Linked DNA regions of Homo sapiens: regions 1 and 3 are each linked to region 2. The links come from fine-mapping of genetic effects on gene expression. A gene starts in region 2. Each other region holds a variant in brackets. All regions are shown on one strand. Distances are between the middles of the regions.

Region 1 (8,000 bases), 110 kb after region 2:
TTTTTAGCTCATAAATTATTCTTGGCTTCTGTTGTTGATGTCTGCTCTCATCCTTAGTTCTTGCAGAAGTGGCATTTATTACATAAGACGTGGGTTTTTCCTGTGGGCAGTGCATGGAAGTGTGAGGTTTCCAAAAACTATTTATCACCCCCTCTCCCCAGCCTTTGTAGGGTTGGGGGTGAAAAAATTCACCTTCAGAAAGTTAAAACAACAGAATCAACAAAAAATAGAGGAGATAGGCCACTTTAAGAAAAGAAACCACATTGTTTCACTTGTCCATCTGTTTGTGTGTTCAAATTGGACTTAGGGACACAGAATTAGGTTAGTCATAATCCTTGGTTCAAGACACAGATTCTATATTGGTCCCTGAATAGCTTGTGTTTTTTTTTAATCTGTTTGTTTAATAATAAAGTAAACAATCACAGTCTACTACCTAACATGAGATCTAGAACTTAATGAAGTTTATGTTTTCCTAATCCATCCCAACCCTGATGTAATCACTATCCAAACAAACACACACACACACACACACATCTATATTTAAGAGCATATATATGACAAAAACTACATTTTAACCGTGTGTGTGAATATATATGAAGATGCTTTCACATATTCGAGAGAGAGCATATTAACTTTAGTTGTTTTCACTTTATGTAAAAGGACATCATTCTAAGAAATGTTTCTGGGACTCATTCAATAATATATATCTAAGATTCATCCATATTGTTCCATGTTGTTTTTTACTGTAGTGCATTTTATTACTTGTAAGAGCTACACATTCTCTTGTCTAGCGGGTATTGAGTTTTTGCTGGATTGTATTTTACTCTTTATTATGGAAGTTTTCAAACATATACAAAAGTAGAAAGAATGATATAAGGAAGCAGGGTGCAGTCATCACCAAGGCCAACAGTTATCAACATTTGGCCAATCTTATTTCATGTATTCTCCCATCCACCACTGGATAACTTCGAAGCAAATCTCACACATCACCCATAAAAAATTTAGTCTGCCTCAGCCAGGCTCGGTGGCTCACGCCTGTAATCCCAGCACTTTGGGAGGCCGAGGCTGGTGGATCACGAGGTCAGGAGATCGAGACCACGGTGAAACCCCGTCTCTACTAAAAATACAAAAAAAATTAGCCAGGCACGGTGGCGGGCGCCTGTAGTCCCAGCTACTCGGGAGGCTGAGGCAGGAGAATGGCGTGAACCCGGGAGGCGGAGCTTGCGGCGAGCTGAGATCGCGCCACTGCACTCCAGCCTGGACGACAGAGCAAGACTCCATCTCAAAAAAATAAATAAATAAATAAATAAATAAATATTTAGTTTGCCTCTTAGATAATAACCTTTTTTGAATGCAGCAATGCAAATATCACACTTATTCCTTAATATTAGCATAAATCCAGCACTCAAAATTCCCCGATTGTCTCGCATCTTTTCTACCTGTGTGACCCCACACTTCTGAAATAGTGGAGGGGAGGAAATGCGTAACCTGTGAGGTCAAGGCAGAGTCTGAAAGCCGATGGTGGTTCTCCTCCGGCTGCAGTCAGCTCCTTTTCTGGGTCATTGCTGAAACAGCCAGAATCTAAAGCGGGGGACTCCAGAGAGCACTGGAGAAGTTCGAGGAAGGAAGAGAGATGCAAGCGCGTGGCCCCAAGCCTGAAGATAAAGAAAAGGCAGAAGCAGTCAAAGAACCCTGTGCAACGTCCTCACCGAATCCTCCTTCTCAAACCTCACTCTCCTCTCCTTTCCGGTTAAAATCTAATAAGGTGTTCAAAGGCCTCTGCCGGCCCCTCCGTACTTCTCCCTCCCTGAATGCTTAGAAAACAGAAGAAGGAAAGAGGAGATGATAACAGGAAAATAGAAAAGCGAGGGTCAAAAGTTAACTGCTCAAAACCGCCTTCACCTAAACCAGGCATTGGCAAACTTTTCCTGTAAACGACCAAATAGTAAATATTCTAGGTTTTGCCATCTCAACTACTCAACTCTATCTTCAAAGAGCAAAAGTGGCCAAAGACAGTCTGCAAACAAACAGGCAAGGCTGTTTCCTAATACTCTTAATCCACAGAAACAGAGGGCAGGCTGCATTTGGCCCACAGGCTGTGGTTTGTCAACACGTAGTCCAAGTACAACAATTTTTATTTCTGTCTATTCCTCCTATGTTTTTGATTATTAAACAGTTACTATAGTTGAAATAGAAAAATAGGAAAAATGGAAATATAAAATATAGCTAAATAGCTAAGTTAATTTGGACTAAGTGATTATCCCCATTTTTCAGATGAGAAAATTGATGTACTTTGAGATTAAAGGATTTGCCCAAGATCACAGAGGCACCATGTGGCAGTGCTTGAACTTGAACTCACAAAGTCTGCCTTCAAAGTCCAAGTTTTTAAGTTTTCTCCTTGTCTAGATGCAAACAAATGTCAATATTGTAACCATAAAAATTGTACAAAACAATGTATAATATTTCCTTAACACTGTAAACATTTAAGTCTTACAATTTTGATAATTTGGTCATTATAGTATTGATCATTATAATTGATAATTGCTGCATAATTTTTCATCATTGGGGTAATAAGTTTTATTAAATTATTTTATATCTCTAATGATTTTATTTTATTAAATTATTTCCTAAGCTAAATTCCCAGGAGTAGTATCACTGGGCATCTCTCAAACCTTGTTGTTATGTACTGGGGAAGAGAGTGCTGATTTGTGGCAACTGCCAATTTCTGTGGTGTAAAGACTCCACAATGGCCACAGATTTTAAGCTACCAACATGACATCACTGAACAGAGCCAAGAAGAGAGGCACATCCTGGGCTCTTGCAAGAAGATGCAAGCTGGTCCAGCACCCAACTGACTTGGCTCATGTTGCCTTTCTTCTTCCCAGCACCAAATTATAAATTGAATTAAAGTGTGAGAGTGTTTCATAAAAACTTTTAAACACTTGATAGTGTGTGAGTGCACTGGTATCTCAAATTTGCTCTAATTTACATCCCCTGGTTCTTACTGAAAGTGTCATTTTTCCATGAGTTCCTTTATGTGTGTCTCTTCTGCAATCCCCTACTCACATTTTTTCATCTGTAGGGTGATGATGCTACTATAAACTGAATGTTTGTGTCCTCCCAAAATTCATATGTTGAAACCCTAACCTCCAATACAATGGTATTAGGAGTTGTGGCCCTTGGGAGGTGATTAAGTCAGGAGGGCTGCCGTCTATTAGCCAGGAAGTGGGCCCTCACCAGACACCAAATCTGCTCGCACCTTGATCTTGGACTTCTCAACCTCCAAAACTGTGAGAAATAAATTTCTGTTGTTTACAAGCCACCCTAGTTATGGTATTTTGTTGTAGCAGCCCAAAAAGACTAAGACACATGCCTTTTCTATGACTTTGAATAACTCTACACATGATAGTTACTCATTCCTTGAACTTGTCTGACACAATTTTGTCTAAACCTTGCTTTTGTTATTTTGTTGTGCAGAAATTATAATGTAATTAAGCCTACTCACCTTTACTCTTGCAAGTCTTTTGGTAATGAACAAGAGAGAGTTCATCCCATCTTCATTTATTCTGCAAATATTCATTAAATGCCTGCTTTGAGGTACTGGAAATACAGCTGGGACCAAAATAATCTCTCTGACCTCATGGGTCTTCCATTTGGGTGGGAAACATAAATTGAAAATCAACAAGCAAATCTATACTGGAAGGTCTGGTGGTGATAAAAGCTACAATGGTACAAAGCAGGGTGAGGGGACAGAGAGGAAGGAAGGTCCTCTCTGGGGACCTTCCCTCTGGGAAGGTCACATTTGAACAGAGACCTGAAAGGTGGAGTCACCAGCCGTGCTGATTTTCCTGCCATTGGAGTTTTTTTTTTTTTAATTGAACTCATTTATCTATCTGGATTTTATTTTTGGTATATGATATGAAAGAGGCTCTGGGTACATTTTATTCAGTTTGTCTACAATTCTTTTAATGCCCTTCCTTCTATTTTCAGACATGTTGTTATGAAGTTGGGTCTAATTCTCAGTTCACTAATACATTCCAATGTGTGTATTTTTAATTGCTATTTTTTGGATAGCCCTTTCCAAAAAAGTTCACCAATTCTTGCTGATTCTTCTGCTTTAGCACTAAATTATTCTTTTCAGTCTCAAAATGAACAACCAGCTTCCTGAAAGGCAAACTATGTCTTAACCATCACTGTATGTACAACATCTCCCATAGAGTCTAGTCAAAATAGACTCATAATATGTTTTTGTTGAATGAATGTCAAAACTCATGTAGATGTTTTCCACTCTCATGCAGGCCTAAGAGCACCTCATTCTGTTAAATAGGTCACAAGTAGCAGACAGCTACTCACACCCACTCACAGGCACATCTACTGTTGTCACTGATTTTTAGGGAAAAAAAAAACAGAATGTAAGACTTTAGTCCTTTACTACAAAGCCACTATAAATGTGGCACCTTTGGTAGACAACTGAGGCAAAGAACAGAGTCCCTCAAAAAGACACAGCCACTTCCATAAGAGAAGACGTACGGAGTTTGTGTTTGAATTATTTCATTCCATTTATTTCACTTGGGATAGGATTGAAAGTCTTGATGATGAGGCCATAGCACAGTCAGACCATCTGCTTTTCCAGTTCTGTGTTTGCACCGTCTGTGCATCCATATTCCCCCCAAAACCAAGAAGGCCAGTGAAAGTGGGGCCAGCACAATGCCCCAGGAGAACGTGGAGGAGGCTGTGGGAAGAACAGAGTCACATCAGGAGCTGAACAGTCTCTCACTGTACAAGAGGACAGGGCAATGCAGGTGTACAAGATAAGAAAGAAATTGGAGTTTGTTTTTCTTGATAAATGTGCATTGATTTTCAGAAAGCACATCCCTCACACCAACATGGAGGATATTTGAGAGTGATGTCTGTGGCATTAGAGAAACGAGCGTGATAGGGCAAAATCTGTTAGAAAC[A/G]TCGTAGGGTAAGTGGGCAAGTGCTGAGGGTTTAACTTTGTTCCAACAGTGGGACACTGTGCGTTTAAGATGCTGTCTGTTTATGTCACAGTTGGCCAACTGTGACAGAGCCAGGAACAATCTGCCCTTTTCTAATGAGCATGGGTGTCATGAGGATCAAAGGAAGTAGCAAAGGAAAATAAATTTTGAATAATGGAGCTGCAGGGGCCAACACGATTGCTTGGGTCCAGCTATTTTATGTTCTGCTCCTTGGCGTCTCTGTGTTATGGAAATACAGGAAGAGACTCTGAATAAAAAGTTAAAAAGCAAATGTGAGAACAGAGTGTTATCAGACACATTGTTGATGAGACTAGAATCCTGCATTTTTAAGCTATTATCTATCACAGTCTGTTTAGTCATCCAGGAATCGACATGACCTCAGCCTGTTGCTCCAGAGGATTCTCACATTTTAAAACCCCACAAAGATTAGAAATAAGTTCAGCTGTAATATTCTGGGCAGCTGTTTGAATACACCTCTCAGTCCTGGTGAAAGACTTACAGCCTGTGTTCCCTGGATCAGTCACGGCCAGCCACATGCAGGGACAAGGCTCATGTTATGGAAAATTTTAAAGGTTCCCAGCATCAGGGCCAGACAAACCACAGGTTCCTTGGGCTCACTAATCTGACCCCGAGAGGGAACATTCTGATTTTTGTGGGTAAATGTGTACAACCACCATCTCTCCCAGCCTGCTCATCTGGAAATGATCTGAAACGCCACCCTTCACATGTGTGCCCTCATTCTCAAACTTCACTGTGAAAGGAGCTTTTTGTGTCACAGGCTGCAGCCTCTCCCTAGGAATATTTGACAGGGTGGATCTGGAGTAAGTCCTGAGATCTGTGTTTGTGACCAGTGGCTCAGGTGAGTGTGAGGCTGGTGGTGCACAGCGCACAGTTGGAGGAAAGTTGGGTGCCATTCCCTGTCCTGAGGCTGGAACACATCATTGGCTTTCCAGTTTACACTGTGTTTGTGGCTGCCTCCCCAGCAAAACATGGAGACCTGGAGCAATTTGTATTTATGTTATTGCTGTAAGATTGTCCACGAGCCATCACTGAGATGCTGGGAATCACTTTGGCTTGCCTGCCATTAGCTACAGGCTGTCAACAGAGACTACATTCAAGGCAGCTCTCCCTCCTGCTCAACAATTAAACATTGATATGAAATCAATTTAATCAAAAATGATAATGTGGGTTTTCCTCTTCTTCTTTTTAAATGTCCTTAAATGAACACTGGGTTGATTTGGCTGTAGCCTTGTACCTATTTCCGGTCATATAATGACTTTGACCCTAAAGCTGCCCTGAACCCTGGGTAGCTCCCAATCCCCAGCTCTTAGAGGATGAAGTTTCTCATCTTCAGGATAAAGAACAATCCACCCTCTTCTAGAGGCCATGCGAAGACAGCTGATTAGTGACCCAAGGCAGAGCCACATGCAGACAGAGTATTTCGAAGTTTACTGTAGAACCATTTCATCCATTTTCCAAAAATCAGCTTGCTATTTAAATTTTTCATTTGAGTATAATCTCCCAAAGTCCAGCCTCCACCCTACCAAAACTCTTTAAAAATGGGAGGTTTCTTTTCAGCTCTCCACTAGCAGACAATGCAAGGGAATTTCTATGGAATCATTTGGAGAACAAGTAGATTTGTCTAGTATCCATGGAACATTCAACATGTTATATTCTCCTATAGTGCTCCCCAAAATACATACATACCTTCCTTGACTGTGGTGCGTAGTGTCTGAAAACTCAGGGTATTATGGACAACACATTTAAAATCCATGTGCAAATCCTCTCTTGTGACAGGATCAAAAATCAATGGCACTTCAATGTAGTTCTCATTATTTTCTGAATATTCCCTGAGTTAAAAAAACATTCACTTAATTATGATTGTATCGAATGCAAGCTTGTCTTTCACAATGTAGACATCTAAACACTCTCCTTTAGAAGTACCCATTGCGCTTTTATTGTTTTCAAGTTTCATAAAGTTAGGAGCTCTTGCCACCATACTTGTGATTCATTTGGGACAGTTTCTAAGCCTGTCCCTGAAGGCCTTAGTGTCACTGAAGTTGGCGGTCACTGGCATCAAACAGTTGTTACACTACAGGGTTAGATAATGGGGAAGTTCATCTTTTAAGTCTCTTAATGAACAACAACAACAAAAAAAAACAGTCATGGGAACAGAAACGTCTAGTTTGAGGAAACTTGAGTCCCTCACCATTAAATCACTTGTATATTGAAGGGCAGGGAGTTTCCAGGACTCCAGCCCTCAGTGGTGCCGTCTCTTCTCATCTCTACTGCTGACTCTCACTCTGGAAACCTGCAGACAGCCCAGGGGAATGGCTGTGGCCAGGATAGCTGCCATTTATAGTGTTAGAGGAATCTGTAGACACCTCACTACTAACTGTTAGTGTGAATAAAAACACAGATGAGTGGATCCACTAGGAATATTTTTGTTCTATTTGTAGGGGGAATATAGGTTCCTTTAAGTAAGTGGATCATATGAGTAAGCTGAGATGGGCATTTAGTTGTGGCCAGGTCTTTTGCAATGAGAACTTGCAAGCACATGATTGTGCTACCCACACATAGTTTTTATCCACTAAATTACATCCAGAAAGATCTTTTGTGATAAGTCTTTCAAAAAACACAACCATTTGGCAAGCAAAAGCTCAGGCTAATTCAAAGTATCAAAACTGTAATTTTAAAAAGAGTTACAATTTGGAATGTTGAATGGTCTCCCTCACAGGCAACAAGTTCCCACTTACAAAAGGTCTGATTGTTCGAGTCTCAGAGTAAGAAAACATTTTCTAGAGATGACTGCTTATGAGAACTGAATTCTTTCTTTTTTTTAATTATTAACCTCCCTTAGAGATTGTGGCAGCCCACAGCTCCCTGAGAAACAGAAGAGGTACTATAGATACTGTGGCTAGGTCTCAGGGTCTTTTTAAGGGTTTATGAAAATGTTTGATAGTCAGGTTGCAGAGTGGAAAATGGAAAGATATGAACTCCAAA
Region 2 (8,000 bases):
ACAGGGATGGGCCTCATCTCTTGTCCTTTGTCCCCTTTCTAAATGCCCTGCCTTGTGCTTCCCAGCCTCCCCTATAACTCCAACACATCTCCTCTCCAGCCACCAGGGTCTACGATGCCAAGGCCACTATTGCACTGGACTTGTCAAAAAGTTGACTGAGAACCAGAGACCTTTCTCCCTGGAGCACTGCCTCCCAGTCAGGCAAGAACAGCTGTTTCTCAGATTGGGATCCACAGACAGTTTCAGAGGACTAAGCCTTCTCTACAAGAATCGTTACATTGTTTTCACTTCTATAATTTTTTTATTGGGGTAAATATTTTTCACCATATTGCTCATGGTGAAACACACAAAACTTACGTGGACAGTTCCATAAATTGCAACAACTGTGTGCACCAGGAATACTTCAGGATGTAGACCATTTCTGCCACCCCTCAAAGTTCCCTTGTGGCCCTTCACCCCCACACACAAAGCACCAACCTTTCTGATTTCTAACTCGACCTCTACCATCCTACAGCAAGCAACGGAAGTGCATTCCTGATGGCTGGCTTAGACATGTCCGGTGCCCTGCTATCTCGGCACCCACGCCTGCAATGGCACTTTAATCACTCACTACCCAGCAATGCAGGGAAAGCAGTGGTTCTCAGTGGAGTGGGTATGGCCCTTGAGGGAGCATTTCGGAACCTGTGGGGAAGGGGACCCTGGGTGATCAGGATGCATTTAGCATTGGAGGCCATCGATGCTTGACATCCGGAACAACACAGGCAGTTCTGCTCAGAAAAGACTTGTCCTGCATGACCTCCAGAGGTCTCACAGACGTTCATACTGACGGAAACATATTTACAATGTTTGAAGCCTAGCCCCCCAACTCCCTTCTACATTCATATGAAATACATATATTGTTGGCACAAGTTTATACACACTAAATTTTTCAGGAATGCAATCACTGTGAAAATTGAGAGAAGAATGGCCTTTGGCTACCATCAAGACCTTAACCGAGAGTCATTCATCCTTCAGTGGCATTTGGATGGCCACTGAGACTCACCTGTTCCCACCCCATGCCAGCTGTCCTGCAGACTATAGAAAGCAATGGCTCACCTCACTAGGTTGTAGTTCAGCTTAGCTCAAGCATCTGCACACTGAAATGCATAATTTTAATACAAATTGCTTTTATTTCTCCTTAACATCTAAGTATTACATTGATTTTTTAAACTTATGTTGTAGATAAGTTTTATTATATCGTTTCAAAATTATAAAAGGGGTGTTTTAAAATATTTGCATTAAGGGGGGTGTTGGGTTTTAATGAGGTGAGACCCACTGATGGAAAGTGACACCATCTAACTTTTCATTTAACTCTTAGTCATTAGTCATTGGCTGTATTTTCAGGGATCTATGAGTTCTCACATTTGGGACGCCAAATGTGCAGAGACCAGCATGGCTAGACTCTTCCTGTTCACAGCTCGCTGAACCATGATTACCGAACTGTGCTTACAGGGAGGGTCATTTCAAGAGACCACCGAAAACTCACTATTCTCACCTCTTTTTCAGGGATCTTTAAAAGAAACTTCCCACTTCTCTCTGTGCCAAGAATGCTTTTTTTCCTGAGCACTTTGCTTTCATCTTGAAGACACTGCTGGCTGTGCCCTGCAGGGTTTCCTCTTTCCCACTGCCTACAGGAAAGAGTATTTATGTATTTATGTTGTCAACCTTGGCTACCTGGGGGGCTTTGAAAATACCCGTGCCCAGCACGCCTCCAGAGATGCTAGTTTGTTTGCTCTGCATCCAGTCCTGGCATTTCCCTGAGTGCTTCAGGCAGTGCTAAGGTGCAGGCAGAGCTAAGACTCAGGCTTCCCTCCACATTCACGGCCCCACTTGAGTAACTTTAGCAGCATCTAGGTCATCAGGGTTTACACTGCACATGTCAAGCCTCATTTCAGACTCCACTTCATCTCCGCTCTTGTTTTCCTTTTACCCTACTTTTAATTTATGAGACCCCCTGTCCGCTCGTGGGCATGAGTCCTCTTGGGAAGTGATAGGTGTCTCCATCGTGCCGCCATGTGTGAGCTCCTGGATGTGCATGAAGAGGAGACAGCACAGAATCCAACATGCAGGCGACTGGGACCTTAAAGAGCTCCAGCCCCTTTCAGTACCTGGTGAGATAACTCGGGGCCAGGGCTTCCCACATGCTCCCTGCACTAGGCATGGCCGGGAGGCTCCAGCAGCATTTCCTGGACCCACAGCAGACAACCAGAGGAGAAAAAGGCTGCTGACAGTGCAGATCCTTGTCTTGTGCCACCAGCCCACCTCACAACCTCAAGAAGAAGAAAATGCAAACCAAGCACCCATTCACGGCAACAGATGGGTAGCATCCTGGAGCTGTGCCATGGCAGGTGAGCCACAGGTGCCCCTGACAACTTCTTTTAAAATGGCAAGAACCTAGTATATCCATTATGTAGCATAAGAATATAAGGATCTCTGTACTTCTCCACCCACTATGCTATGGTAGTTTCACCGCAATTGTCCAGCTTTGCCTCTCTTATTACTGAGATGTCTTCTCCATAATGTCCCAGCTTGCAGGTGGACACTCAGCTCGCACTGATGCATCCCAGCCACAGGGTTTCCATCTGCCCTGGTCCCTGTGCATGGCCAAGCCACAGAGTGTAGCTCCACCTCCTAGAGCTCCACATCCTAGGAACTGAGGCAAGGGACACCACAAACTTGGAGAATAGCAGCCCTGCGATTCTCTAGGGAACCACAGAGCTACATCTGTGCCCATCATCTCCTCGTCCTCTCCATTGGGGCTGCTGAGTGGTGTCCTCTAGGTAGCCAGTGCATCCACACCCTTGTACAAAGGGGCGGATTTCAAAGACCCCCCTTTTGAAGAGAGACTGCTGACATCCTATGTCTTACCAAGAAGACTCATGTCCATAAGGGGACAGAGGTTTTCACTTGTCGTATTCACCGCTGTCTCCCCACCACTCACCACAGTGCCTGGCACATAGTAGATAGTCAATAAATCTTTAATAAATTAGTGAATCTACTATTAAGCAGTGTTTCAACAATGGTGAGAGGTTGACTCAAAAGATGTCACAGGTTTCAGAACCATAAAAAAAAAACTTGATGTCACATTATGACATACAAGCAGGGCCTATTAGAAATGGGGGTGCTGCTCTGGGCCTGCCAAGGTCATGTGAGAATTCAGATCAAATATCCTTTCCTGAACAGCATGGAGGCCACATGAGAGTGGACGGGTGCAGGAGACGCTTCACACACAGCAGCTTGGCAGCTAGCCAGAGACTGAAAATAAATCAGAGTTCCACACCCCTGCCCCAGCAAACCCCATTCTCAAAGGCTCTACCTTTCTGTCTAGCATAAACGTTAACATCGGATATGAATACAGAATATTAAATGAAATATCAAATGAGATATCACACAATAAATTAGAAGGGATTGAGAAAGAAAACAATGCCAATAGCCGCTTGGTAAACTGGATGGCAAAAAGGACAGTGAACGTCCCCATGCCACCTCTGGCTTTCCTCAGCTCATCAATAGTCATGGAGTTCTGTTTCATACATTCAATGTCCAGAAGCCTGGCACCAAACCGCAGCGACTGAGACATCCATCACATTCCCGTGACGAATGGACCCTTGCTCCATGACCTCAAGAGCCCAAGTTCATGGTGTCCCTTGCCTCAGTTCCTAGAATGTAAAGCTAAATCACAGGAATGTGGCCATCTGAGAAGCTACCCTGCCCCAAAGATAAGGCAGTGGAGAGACAGCCCAGCAGGAGCCAGCATCTGCGTGCCTTCCCAGCGGCCTTCCTTCCTCCCGGCAGTGCAGAGGAGAAAGCCCTGGCAGGCAGGACGAGTGGGAGGGAAGACAGAGGGGGGCTGCATGCAGAGGTCTTACCCTCCTTCAGGACATCATCCTCCAACAAGTTGGTCACCTAAACTTCTGCTTCCCCCGCTGTAAAACAGGGGTGATGACAGCACCCTCCTCACAAGACTGTAGGGAGGGTAAAAGACCAGTTGCTGTCAAGGGCTTATAAACTGTAAAGTGCTGGGCATGACTGTTGTAAATAATGAGTGTCTTCTCAGCGCCTACTTGCTTGTAGCTACATTCCCTAGCACCATCCTTTATCTGGAGGGGCAACAAGTTACCCTCCCCAGTGTGGTTAAGGCCTCAGCCCTTACCTTGTTAAGGAGACTGACGGTCCTGAGCCTAACCTCTAAGAGGGACGCTCCTGAACCTGTAGAACGTAGCCGGATAGAAAACCTGAAAGCCATTCACACGGGAAGTCACACACCTACCTAGAACCCCCCTCCAGAACAACTGGCAAGTTCCTTCAAACGACCTGAACAACGTTAACTCTTGCTCCACACAAGAAACACACACACGCAGACCTCACCGCCATCCCCTTCTTACACAACACACTCTGACAACCAAGTGCAACTTAGGGAGGACGCTCACGGCGTCCTGCAGAGCGGGGGACTCGAAGGTGTCAAGGCTGTGGTCCGTCTCACCCCTACCTAGTCCCCGGATGCTCCAGCTTCCCCGTACCTGGACGGACGGCCGTGGAGGGTGATGGGATCCCAGCCCCGGGCGGAACCCGGCTCAGCTCAGAGGGGCGAGAGCCCTAGGAGCCGAGCGAGGAGTGCTTCGGTGCGCGGGCGCGCGATTGTCACATTCCTGCCGCTCCCTGGGGCGCGCGGGGCAGGCCGGCGCCCCCACCGCCCGGCCCGGCCGCTCTCCGGCTCCTCCCGGCCGGCGCCGCGCGCTCCGAGTCGGCTCCGGCCGCCGGCCACAAGCTGCGCCCGCCCTCGCGGCCGGGAACTGCCGGGCGCGGCTCTGGCTCTAGCCCCGCCGCTGCGGGGGCGGGGAACGGGCGGAGACGGCTCGGCTGGGCCAGTCCGCGGGCTGCGAGCGAGCTGGCCGGGTGTCCCAACTCTCCACCCGGAGGAGCAGGCGCGGCTGGACAGACCCCTGCGGACACCGCCCTGCCCCGGGTAGCCCGCAGGGGTCCCGCCGGTTCCAAAGCATTGGAGAGCTGCCGGGCGCTCTCGAGTCGCGGCCCGGCTCCTCCAGGGCTGCGGCGGCTCCACTAGAGTTAGTTGAGACAACTCACCTAGCCACTACGACCTGGCTCTACTACCCCCATGGAGCCTGGCTGCGACCCGCGAATTGAGTTGGCGACTCCAGGGCATCAGATCCCGAAGCAAACGCTCGCCAGAGCGACCTCTGGAGCTTGGTGCCTGGCCAGGGGCTCTCTCCGACTGGCTTTGTGCACTAATTTCTTTGTACCTCCGTTTCCTCTTCTGTGAAAAAGGGATCATAAGAGCACTCATCTCATGGAGTGGTTGAAAACAGTTTTTTAAAAAAAATGAGCTAATACATATAAAATAGTGCCAGGCCCAGAGCTGATACTACTCACGCGTTATCTGCTGGTTTCATTGTTGCTGTTACGCGCCCGGATGAAAAAAGCAATTTAAGTGTCATACTATAAAATCTTGATACCACACTTGGGGGCAGACAGGGTTTTTAAATTTTTAAACTTAAAACCCACTTATGCCCACCAGCTCACTTTGCCAATGAGAATTCACACCCAGGGGAATGGAAGGATGGCCAAGGTCATGCAGCGAACGAACGCCTGGCAGGATCACACCTTGGGCTCCTTGCAGGGAGAGGAGGGGAGGGCGCAGTGGTCGAGTCTGCAGCTCCCTCGGGCTTTCCCCCTCCACTTCGCTAGTCTTCAGCAAGTGACTGGCCCCTCCAGCTTGTTTGGAGGTCTTCATGGGCCATCCTCCAAGAAGAGTTTTAATAAATGATGATAGCTTCCTTCCTTCTAGTACACACCGCCCCTTCCTGCATCCCTTTCAGACTGGGCAGGCTCTTGTTCTCGTAACCCACCCCTGGATATGCCTCTTCAGAAACTCAAGAATTGAGGTAACCTGAGCCTCAGCTGCCCCCGGACAAATCCAGGCTGGAGGAAAAGATGAAGGAATGAGCAGCAGAAGCTCATCTGCCCTAAAAGCTGTCTTGCAACCTGGCATGATGACAATTTCTCATTCTTAAACAATCTGTTTCCAGAAGCTTTTATGGTTCCTTTTCCTCGAGAAAGCAGGCTTACATCAGAGGCCAGTGACGTAGCATTAAGAGAATTCCTTAACAATCCCAGCTCTCAATATTCCTTTATACAGCAGAAGGTCTCACAGCCTTGACTCCACTCAGAATCACCGGAGGACATGACACTCCTGTGTTCAGATCAGTCACGTCAGAGTCTCTGGGGCTGAGGCCCAAAAGGCAGTGTTTTTAAAGCTCCCAGGTAATTCCAGTGCAGCTGGGGTTGCAAGCAGTTGTTCCTCTAAGCTCCCACAGTGATGCCATTACTGTGAATCCTCCAACTGAAGGCTGCTTCAACCACGTGTCCAAATGGCAGTTCTGAAAGCTACAGCAGGTGGGCCTGGCTCCATGCTGTGGAACCAGCCCAGAAGCACTATGATGGTGAACATAAATTCGTCCTTCCATTTTCATAATGAAGGTTTTTAAGCAGTTTACAAGTAGAAAGTGAAATTGATTTGTGCAACCATGTAGAAATAAAATCCGTAATTTTTGTCTTTTTTAAGTGTTGTCCCCGTTCAGCCACTCCTACCCAGTGTCCTGCTAGACATGCAGGCCTCTAGACCCAGGTGGGACTCTCAAACACCCGCCCAACACAGAAATGGAATTGGAAGACCTCCTCTTTCTCACCTTATTACCACTGTTCTATCTGGGACCTTCAAGTCACCTTCTCCCTCACTCAGCCATCCTGACCACTTTCACTGACTTTCTCCTTCCCTTTATTTCCTTTCCTTGGATAACTGGTGTGCCTGCCTGTCTCACTCCATCCCCTGGGTAGGAGGCTTCCGTAAGGTGGAGACTGTCATCCCTGTATCCCTATCTGCTCTGGTCTCAGCACCACAAAAATGCTCTGAGCACATCAACATGCTTTAGTGTAAAGCCTACTGCTTACACTGACATTGTATGCTAGTGATGCAATCCAATGGCCCACATCTTGGACAAAAACTTACAAGAAACAGAAATAGCATTGTTAGCCTCTGGACACCTTCCGGGGTGTCTCCCTCCCACCTCTGAAATGCTTATCATTCAGGAGACTTAACTGAGACCCTGTCCCCTGAGGGTTTTCAGTTTCTCCTCCACTTGTCTAGCTGATCAGATCCCAGGACCCTCTTTGGGAAGAGTTTCTGATAATGCACATGAAACAAAATCATATTGACCAACACAACATAATCCAATGCCTGAAAAATAAAGCATCTCCTATGGCCCATGTGGCAGGACATTTTGAAAGACTGTCCATTATAAACATTAAGGCTAGGCTTGAAAGAAGAAGTATTTTATGTTTTTTTTCCTTGAACCTCCAAAGCCAAAGTATTGGACAACTTAGACCATAAGGTTTACATCATAAACCACGGAGTACAGAAGAATGTATGGTAATGTAAAGCTATTTGTTTTTGTTCCCACTCCAAGGAACAGAGTTGACCAGCAGGTGGGAAGGGGAGAAGCAGAGGGAGGGAGCTGCTCTTTACTAGACCCTGAAAGGTTTCTGAGGAGTGACTCAGAGCTTCCACTCTTCAGCACCACCTAATAAGAGAAATCCTGGTGTGTTAGGCCATTCCTACATTGCTATAAAAAAATACCTGAAACTGGGAAATTTATAAGAAAAGAGATTTAATTCTCTCATGGTTCTGTAGGCTATACAGGAAGCATGGCACTGCCATCTGTTGGGCTTCTGAGGAGGCCTCAGGAAACTAACAATCATGACAGAAGGTGAAGGAGGTGCAGGTACGTCACGTGGCCAGAGCAGGAGGAAGCGAGAGAGAGGTGCGGGAGGTGCCACTCACTTTTAAATGACCAGATCTCATGTGAACTCAGAGCAAAAGCTCGCTTATCACCAAGGGGATGGCCCAAGCCATTCATGAGGGATCTACCCCCATGATCCAAACAACT
Region 3 (8,336 bases), 61 kb after region 2:
TTTTTAAATAAGATATTGATGAGTGAACAAATATAAAATCTTTGAGAGAGAAAGGGAGGCTAGATAACGTTTAAAAACAGCTGGAAAGAACAGTAACGAGAATTTTTTAATTTACGAGGTGATTCCCAGAGCAGATTAGTGACAGATAAAGAACTAGTGAGTTTTTTACACAGTTGAAAGATCACAAAGAAAAAAAGTCTGTTGAAAAATAAACAGAGCCCCTGGCTCTGCCAAAATATATGTAATTAAAATCCCCAAAAAAAAAGAGGGGGAGAAAGGCGTAGAAAATATTTAAAGTAATAATGACTGACAACTTTTCAAACAGTGAAAAATATTAATTTACATATTCAACAAGCTCAATACAACCCAACAAAGAATAATCACAAAGAAAGCACATCATAAGCAAATTGTTAAAAGCCAATGATAAAGAAAATATCCTGAGAGCAGCTAGAGAAAAACGACCCATCACATACAGGAAATACAATGAAGTGATTAACAACTGAATTCTTATGAGAAAGTACGGAGGCCAAAAGGCATTGGAACAACATACTCTAAGCACCTAAAGAAAACTAAACTGTCAATTAAGAAATCTTACCCAGTGAAACCACCCTTTAAAAATTAATGCCATTATTTGCAGATGGCATGATTGTTTTTCTGGAATATTCACAAGCATGTACAGATTATTAAAATCAGTAAACAAGTTTAGCAGTGCTAGTGGATAAAAGGTCAATATTAAAATCACTTTTATTTCTATCAACGAACAAGTCATAAATGAAATGTTTCAAAAATTACTTCATGTACAAGCTCACTAAAAATAGTAACCACCTAAAAATAAAGCTATTGCTGACACAGACAGTGATTCTTCTGAAAATATGAAAAACATGTAAGTTCCCTACACTGAAAAATTTTAAAAATTGCCAAGAGAAGTTAAAGAATATCTTATAAATGGAGCTATACAATGTAGCATGTTCAATAATTGAAAGATTTGATGTTGTAAAGTTGTCAGTTATTCCCAAATTGATTTATAAATTAATTGCAATCCCAATCAAAATCGCTGTTGGTATTTTGTGGGAATTGACAGGTGATTTTAAAATTCATATGAAAATATTAAATGCAAATAATAGCTATGGCAATCTTGAGGAATAGTAAAGACTTACCCTACTAGATAGCATTTTATATCAGGGCTATAGTAATTAGGACAGCATTTCAGTGAAAATTTATACAAACTGGCCAATGCAATAGAATGAATAGTCCAGAAAAAGACTCATACACACCTACATAGTTACCTGATTTATGCCCAACACGCCACTGAACTGAAGAGAGAAAAGAGTATTCATTTCTCTAAATGGCACTGAATCATTTGGATAGTCAAATGGAGAAATGAAAATTGAACCTTGAGCCACTGCTTAATACCATATCCAAATCTTAATTGTTGGTCTGCAGATCTGAATGTGAAAAGTAAAACAATAAAGCCTTTAAAGAAATGCACAGGAGAAAATTTTTATGACTTTGGAGTAGGCAAATAGTTGTAAAACAGACACAAAATATTCTAATAATCAAAGAAAGACTATTGATAAATCAAGGTGTGTTCATCCAAAGACACCATTAGGGAAATGAAATGCAATCCACAGAGTTGAAGCAGGTATTTGGAATAGATACTGCTGACAAAGTGTTCTTACCCAGAATGCATTAAAAACCACTGCAAATCAGTAAGAAAAATCTAGGTAACCCAATAGAAATACAAACAAAAGGTTGAACTGATCCTTAACAAAAGAAAATATTTAAATGGCCAAAAAATAATTTGAAAAAGTGTTCAACTGCATTAGCCATTGGGGAAATTCAATTAAAGCCAGAATGAAATTGCGGGACACTCTTACCAGAATGGTGAAAATGAATAAGAGAAAATATTAAACGCTGGTAAAGATTTCCATCAGCTGGAACTGTCAAACATTCCCACTGGAAGTACATATTAGCAGAACCATGCTGTGTGGCAGCAGTAACTACTGCTGAGGAACAAATACATATCTTATGACTCAGTAATTTCACTCACAGGTACAAGACCAACAGAAAATAGTAGAAATGTCAACCAAAGTATGTATACAAAAATACTCATAGCAGCCCTATATTTATTAGCCAAAAACCAGAAACTATCCAAATGTTCATCAGCAGTACAATGTATTAATAAATCATAGCATATTCACAAAATATGATTTTGTGAAAATTAATTTAGTTGCCCATGATGAGTTCACTGTTCTGTGTATGCATTATACTTCATTTAAAAGTTTGAAAAGATCCATATTATGTATAAGACTGGTTAACTTTGTACGGGGCGATAAAATCATATCATCTTTGGGGATAATTTCTCAACCAGGATTTTTACTACTGTGAGTTGATTCCGAGCAACCTCTATTATTACAGGGCTGTACGCTGTGTGTATTTATTTTAGTTATTGATTGTGTCAAACCAGACCACCAGGCCATAAAAGAATCATTATTTTGCTGCATTTCCATGTTTAGAACAAATGCCTCTTTTTCCAGCATTCCTGGGAACCAAGGAGGAAACGCACAAAAGATGTCAACGGGCTGTCTTTAGTTTAACTGAGCTTCATTTTACTGGATTTTTTGGTTAGGGTTTTTGTATGGCCTTTCTCATTTGCGCCTCACATTATAACTGCTACATCTTAGTTTTGCAAACAAGAAAATTGAGATTGCGAGAGATTCAGAGTCGCAAGAGATTCAGAGTCGCAAGAGATTCAGAGTCGCTATGAGGCCTTGGTCAAGACCACAGAGCTAAAAGGCAGGGCAAAAACAAAATTAATATTTAGCTAAAGCACATATTGCTATTTCCACTTTTTTTTTTTTGAGGCGGAGTCTTGCTCAGTCGCTTAAGCTGGAGTGCAGTGGCGTGATCTCGGCTCACTGCAACCTCTGCCTCCCAGGTTCAAGCAATTCTCCTGCCTCAGCCTCCTGAGTAGCTGGGATTACAGGCGCCCATCACCATGCCTGGCTAATTTTTGTATTTTTAGTAGAGATGGGGTTTCACCATATTGGTCAGGCTGGTCTTGAACTCCTGACCTCGTGATCCACCTGCCTCGGCGTCCCAAAGTGCTGGGATTGCAGGTGTGAGCCACCACACCTGGCCGATATTTCCACTTTTAAAAAGCATTAGCACAGCTTGTAATTGTTTCTAAGTACCTACTAACTATAGTTTTAGGTACTAGAGGAAAACTCCTAAGTGTGTCATCAGGTGTCAGAACAGAGGGACCCAAGGATGGAAGAGCCCGTATCTGTTTGTGTCAAGGCCAGCTCAGGGATTACCCTTGACCACTCAGACATTCCAGCTACTTCATGAAAGAGAACTAGTAGGATTACACACAAGGGAACAATATTACTTCACCCAGAAATACCTCGGCACTCTGGGGAACACACCATCCATCTGGGGAGAAGGTACCTACCCAAAAGGAAAAAAAAAGTTCTATTCTAGACACTGTCAGTACGAGTCATCAGCTGATGTGTGGAGAATTACATCTACCTTGCATTTTTTTCCAAACACCCACTCAAAGAAAGTGTCCTCTGAAGTGTGGAAATGAGTCAGTGCATGAATCTCACTTTCCTGATGTGGCCCTAGACCTTCTTAGAGTTTAGAGTAGGACTAAGTGTCCTCAGGAAATCAGTCAGCACTTGCTGGGTGCAGAAAATCCCTTCATGCGGAGCATCAGGGGTGCAAAGTCACGTGCCAGCCCTACAGAAGCTTACCATCCCATTGGAGTGGCCCCCTCTGGTCCTCATGACCAGGAATCCTGATGTTTTTGACATTGTTCCTGTTCGTTCATAAAATTGGCTGAGGTCCAAACCTCAGCCTTGAGTACAGTCCCTGAGAGGAAGTTGTTCTTCATACACAAAGCTCTGGTTTCCTAACATGCTTAGTGATTAGAAAAATTTTAAAACTCTTAACAATCTCTGAGAGTACCCAGCCAGCGAGGTTACAGCGAGGCTAGCAGCTCTCATTTGCACTGACCGAGCAACAGTCTACAACATCTCCCAGCAACAAATAGCTCAGTGAAGACAGCCCTGCTGATGGCATGCTCGCTTGAAATATTTAAAAAAGAGAGAGAAAGAGAAATACTATGGCACAATAAGACTCTCTGTCTCCAGGGCGTTTGTT[C/T]TGTTTTGTTTTGTTTGATGAAGCAGTTTGAATAAGAAAAATCAAGAAAACCACTACTTCCGTTATCACCTACCTCATGTTAAGTGCATGGAATTATCATGACACTATTCCTAAGAAACTACTTTTACTTTATGCTGATTCTGAAGTTCTTATACCAAGTAAATTAATGATGTTTGAAAACAAAAAGAAAGCAAATGTCCCACCTCAATCCAAAACATTCCAAGATGCACTATACATCCTTGGCTTTAGAACAAACAAGATAATCCTTTTTGAGAAGATTATCAGCAATTTTTTTCTCTTGTGTTTTTCTAACAAACAAAATGGATCACATGGCAAATATATCTCCAGAAATAATATTTAAATTAAAGGATTAGATTTATCCTTTAATTTATCCTTTAATTTATATTTATCCTTTAATTTAATCTAAATTAAAGGATTAATTAAGGCAATGTATAGGAAGGGAAGCAGAGACAAAGATAGTTATAAAGCCAAGAAGGAACAGGAGAACATTTGAAGAAGGAAAGGGAGGACGAGGAAATGAAGAAAACCTGGAAGTGAATGCCAAGGTGTTAGGTTATTTGCCCACATCAACTGACTTAGCAGCTCCAGAGGTGGGACCTAGGAATCTGTGCCCTCCAGGTATTCTGAGGCAGGCTAACATTTGATAAACAATAAACGAAAATGCTCTGTAGCCCATGTTTTAACTTCTTTAAAAGTAGAACTGCCTTTACTCTCTTTCATTCTTCCAAAGCATCCCAGGCAAATGGGCCATTGATAATGATGACTGATGACTGGGTAGTTCATCTCACAGCCACCAACGTAATCAAGAGAGGAAGCCACTGGAGTTGCTCAACCATTAAGCCCAAATCCACTATCAAACTGAAGCCATTAGGACTTCCAGTGTAGCCTGCAACACATGTGTTTCTCTGATATTCAGATGAGAATCAAGTCGCCATTCAGGCCTAATTCGCCTTCGCCTTCTAAACAGGGTGGGGGCAAATCCCCTAGCCCTTTTCTTTGTCAGGAAGCTGGATATTCACTGATAGATGGGGTGCTTTTCAAACCACTGACCCCAGGACAGGGAAGGAGCTGTTATTTCCTGTCCCTTGTACAGTTAGTCTAACTCAATCCTCATTCGTACTCTAGAATGAAAACTTGATCATTTGTAGAGCAATGCCTGAAACCACCGTGGAGCCAGGCTGGTAGATGCCCTGGTACATTGCAGGTTGGAAGATTATTTCCATGGATCTTGGGAGAGCACCAGATGCAGGCCATTGGGTGTGGTTCAAACTCTTCCATCCCAGGCTCCCTTAGCTGGTTGTAACTAATTCAGCATATTTCTGCAGGATTTGCAAAAATCTCTACAGTTAGAAATAGATACTCTCATATATTCTTATTTTAATGAGAATTTTATTGAGATGTCATTCACACAGCATAAAATTACCCTTTTAAAAGTGTACAATTCAAAGGGTTTCAGTATATTCATAGAGTTGCGCACCCATCACCACTATCCAATTTCAGAGCATTTTCATCACCCCCAAAAGAAACTTCATACTCATTAGCAATCACTCTTCGTTCCCCTTTCTTCTAGCCCCTGGCAATCTATATACTACTTTCTGATTCTATAAATTTGCTTATTCTAAGCATTCCATATAAATGGAATTATACAATGTGTGGGCTTCTGTAACTAGCTCCTCTCACTTAGCATAATGCTTTCAAGGTTCCTCTATGTTGTACTGTGTATAGGTAGTACTTCACTCCTTTCCATGGCTGAATAATATTCCGTTGTTTGGATATACTGCATATTGTTAATCCATTCATCCATTAATGGACATTTGGGTTGTTTCTATGTTTTGGCTATTTTGAATAATGTTGCTATGAAAATTGGTGTACAGATTTTTGTGTTGTTAATTATGTCACATAGATACCTAGGAGTGGAATTGCTGAGTCATATGGCAACTCTATGTTGAACATTTCAAAGAACCACAAACTATTTTAAAAGTAGCTGTACCATCTTACATTCCTTCCAGTAATAAATGAGTGTACCAGTTTCTCTATGTCCTCACTAACATTTATTATTTCTGGCCTCTTTCATCCCGTCATTCTAGTGGATGGCATCTTAGTATGTTTTGCTTTGCGTTTGCTAATGACCAGTAATGTCGAGCATCTTTTAATGTGCTTAGCAACCCTTTATCTATCTTCTTCAGCGAAATGTCCATTCAAATCTTTTGCTCACTTTTTAATTGGGTTGTCTTTTTATTGTTAATTTATCAGAGATTTGTGCATATTATGGATACAAGTTCATTATCAGATAATTTGCCAATATTTTATCCCACTCCATGAGCTATATTTTCACTTTCTTAAGAGAGTACTTTAAAACATGAAAGGATTTAATTTTGGTGAAGTGCAATTATCTATTTTGTTGTTGCTTGTGCTCTGGCGCTGTATACTTAAGGAAGCATTGCCCAATTCAAGGTCACAAAGATTTATATTTATATTTCCTTCTAAGAGTTTTGCAGTTCTAGATCATACGTTTAGTTCTATGATTGCTTTTTGAGTAAATTTTTGTGTACAGTATGAGATAGAGATGCAAATTTTTTCTTCACATGTGGATATCCAGATGTCCCATCACCTTTTATTAAGAAGATTATTCTTTCCCCCACTGAATTGCTGGCATCTTTCTTGGAACCAATTGACCATAAACGTAAGGGCATATTTCTGAATTCTTAATTCTATTTTTATTGATTTTTATATTTATACTCTGAGAACATCCTACTGTCTTGGATACCGTTGCTTTGTAGTAAGTTTTAAAATGGGAGTGTAAGTCATTGACTTTGTTATTTTTCAAGATTGTTTTGGATATTCTCCATCCTTTGCATTTCCTTGTGTATTTTATGAGCAGTTTCTCAATTTCTGCAATAAAGGCAATTTGGATATTCATAAGGATTGTGATAAATCTGGGATACATTTGGGGAGTACTGCCATCTTTAAAAAAGTTAAGTCTTCTGATTCATGAACATGGGATGTCTTTCAATTAATTGAGCGATTTTAAAATTACTTTCAATAATATTTTATACTTTTAGTGTACAAGTCTTATACTTCTTTTCTTAAGTTTATGCTATTTTATTCTTTTTGAAGCTATTGTAAGTAGAATTGTTTTCTTAATTTCATTTTCAAATTTTTCATTGCTAATATATAAAAATACAATTAATTTTCATATATTGATTTTGTATCTTGCAAACTTACTGAGCTTGTTTAGTAGTCTAATAGTTTTTAGTGGATTCCTTAGAATGTTCTATATACAAGACCAGGTCATTTGAGAATAGAGCTGGTTTTTTCCAATATGAATTTTATTTCTTCTTGCCAAATTTCCCTAGCTAGCATTCTTAGTACAATGTTGAATAGAAGTGGTAGGATTAAACATCCTTCTCTTCTTCCTGATCACAGAGGGAAAGCTACTGGTCTTTGATCATTAAGTATAATGTTAGCTGTGGGGTTTTTTGGATGCCCATTATCAGGTTAAGAAAGTCCTCTTCTATTACTACTCTGCTGATTTTTGTTGGTTTGTTGTTGTTGTTGTTGTTGTTTTTAATCTTGAAAGGGTGTCAGATTTTATCAGACATTTTGTCTGCATCTATTGAGATGATTATGCAATTCCATCCTTTATTCTATTAATATGTTGCATTACATTGATTGATTTTTGGATGTTGAAATAATGTTGCATTCTTAGGATAAATCCCACTTGGTCATGGCATATGATTCTTTTATAGCTGCTCTATTTCATGTCCAGTGTTTTGCTGAGGATTTGTATGTCTGTATTCATCAGGGATATTGGTCTTTATTTTACTTTTCATATGATGTTTTCATCTGGTGTTGGTACCGGGGTAATACTGACTTTCTAGGATGAATTCGCAAGTGTCCCTTCCTTTTCAACTTTTTGAAATAGTTTTCTGAAGGATTGCTGCTCATCTCTTTTAAATGTTTGGTGGAATTCACCAGTGAAACCATCTGGGCATGGGCTTTTTTCCTTTTTTTTTTCTTGTGTGTGTGTGTGTGTGTGTGTGTGTGTGTGTGTGTGAAGTTTTTTGACTGCTAATTCAGTGTCTTTATTTATTATAGTCCCATTCAGATTATCTATTTCTTCTTGATCCAGTTTCAGTTGTGTCTTTCTA

The links.
Region 1: its variant is fine-mapped to the expression of IL1R1 in whole blood (TOPMed, PIP above 0.99).
Region 3: its variant is fine-mapped to the expression of IL1R1 in whole blood (TOPMed, PIP 0.94).

What each region holds. Positions count from the first base shown.
Region 1 is chr2:102,024,958-102,032,957 of GRCh38, reverse strand. IL1R2 (interleukin 1 receptor type 2) reads right to left here. Exons shown (of 9, transcript NM_004633.4): 8 at 6,705-6,847; 9 at 4,414-4,732. The coding sequence ends at 4,566. Among named protein-coding and RNA genes, the nearest start is that of IL1R2, 37 kb to the right of the region's middle. The variant A/G (reference allele first, on the strand shown) is at 4,959.
Region 2 is chr2:102,139,577-102,147,576 of GRCh38, reverse strand. It overlaps IL1R1 (interleukin 1 receptor type 1), which reads right to left and starts at 4,831. Exons shown (of 12, transcript NM_000877.4): 1 at 4,557-4,831. RefSeq lists enhancers at 3,614-3,908, 3,674-3,968.
Region 3 is chr2:102,078,469-102,086,804 of GRCh38, reverse strand. It overlaps a transcript of IL1R1 not described here. Among named protein-coding and RNA genes, the nearest start is that of IL1R1, 60 kb to the left of the region's middle. The variant C/T (reference allele first, on the strand shown) is at 4,165.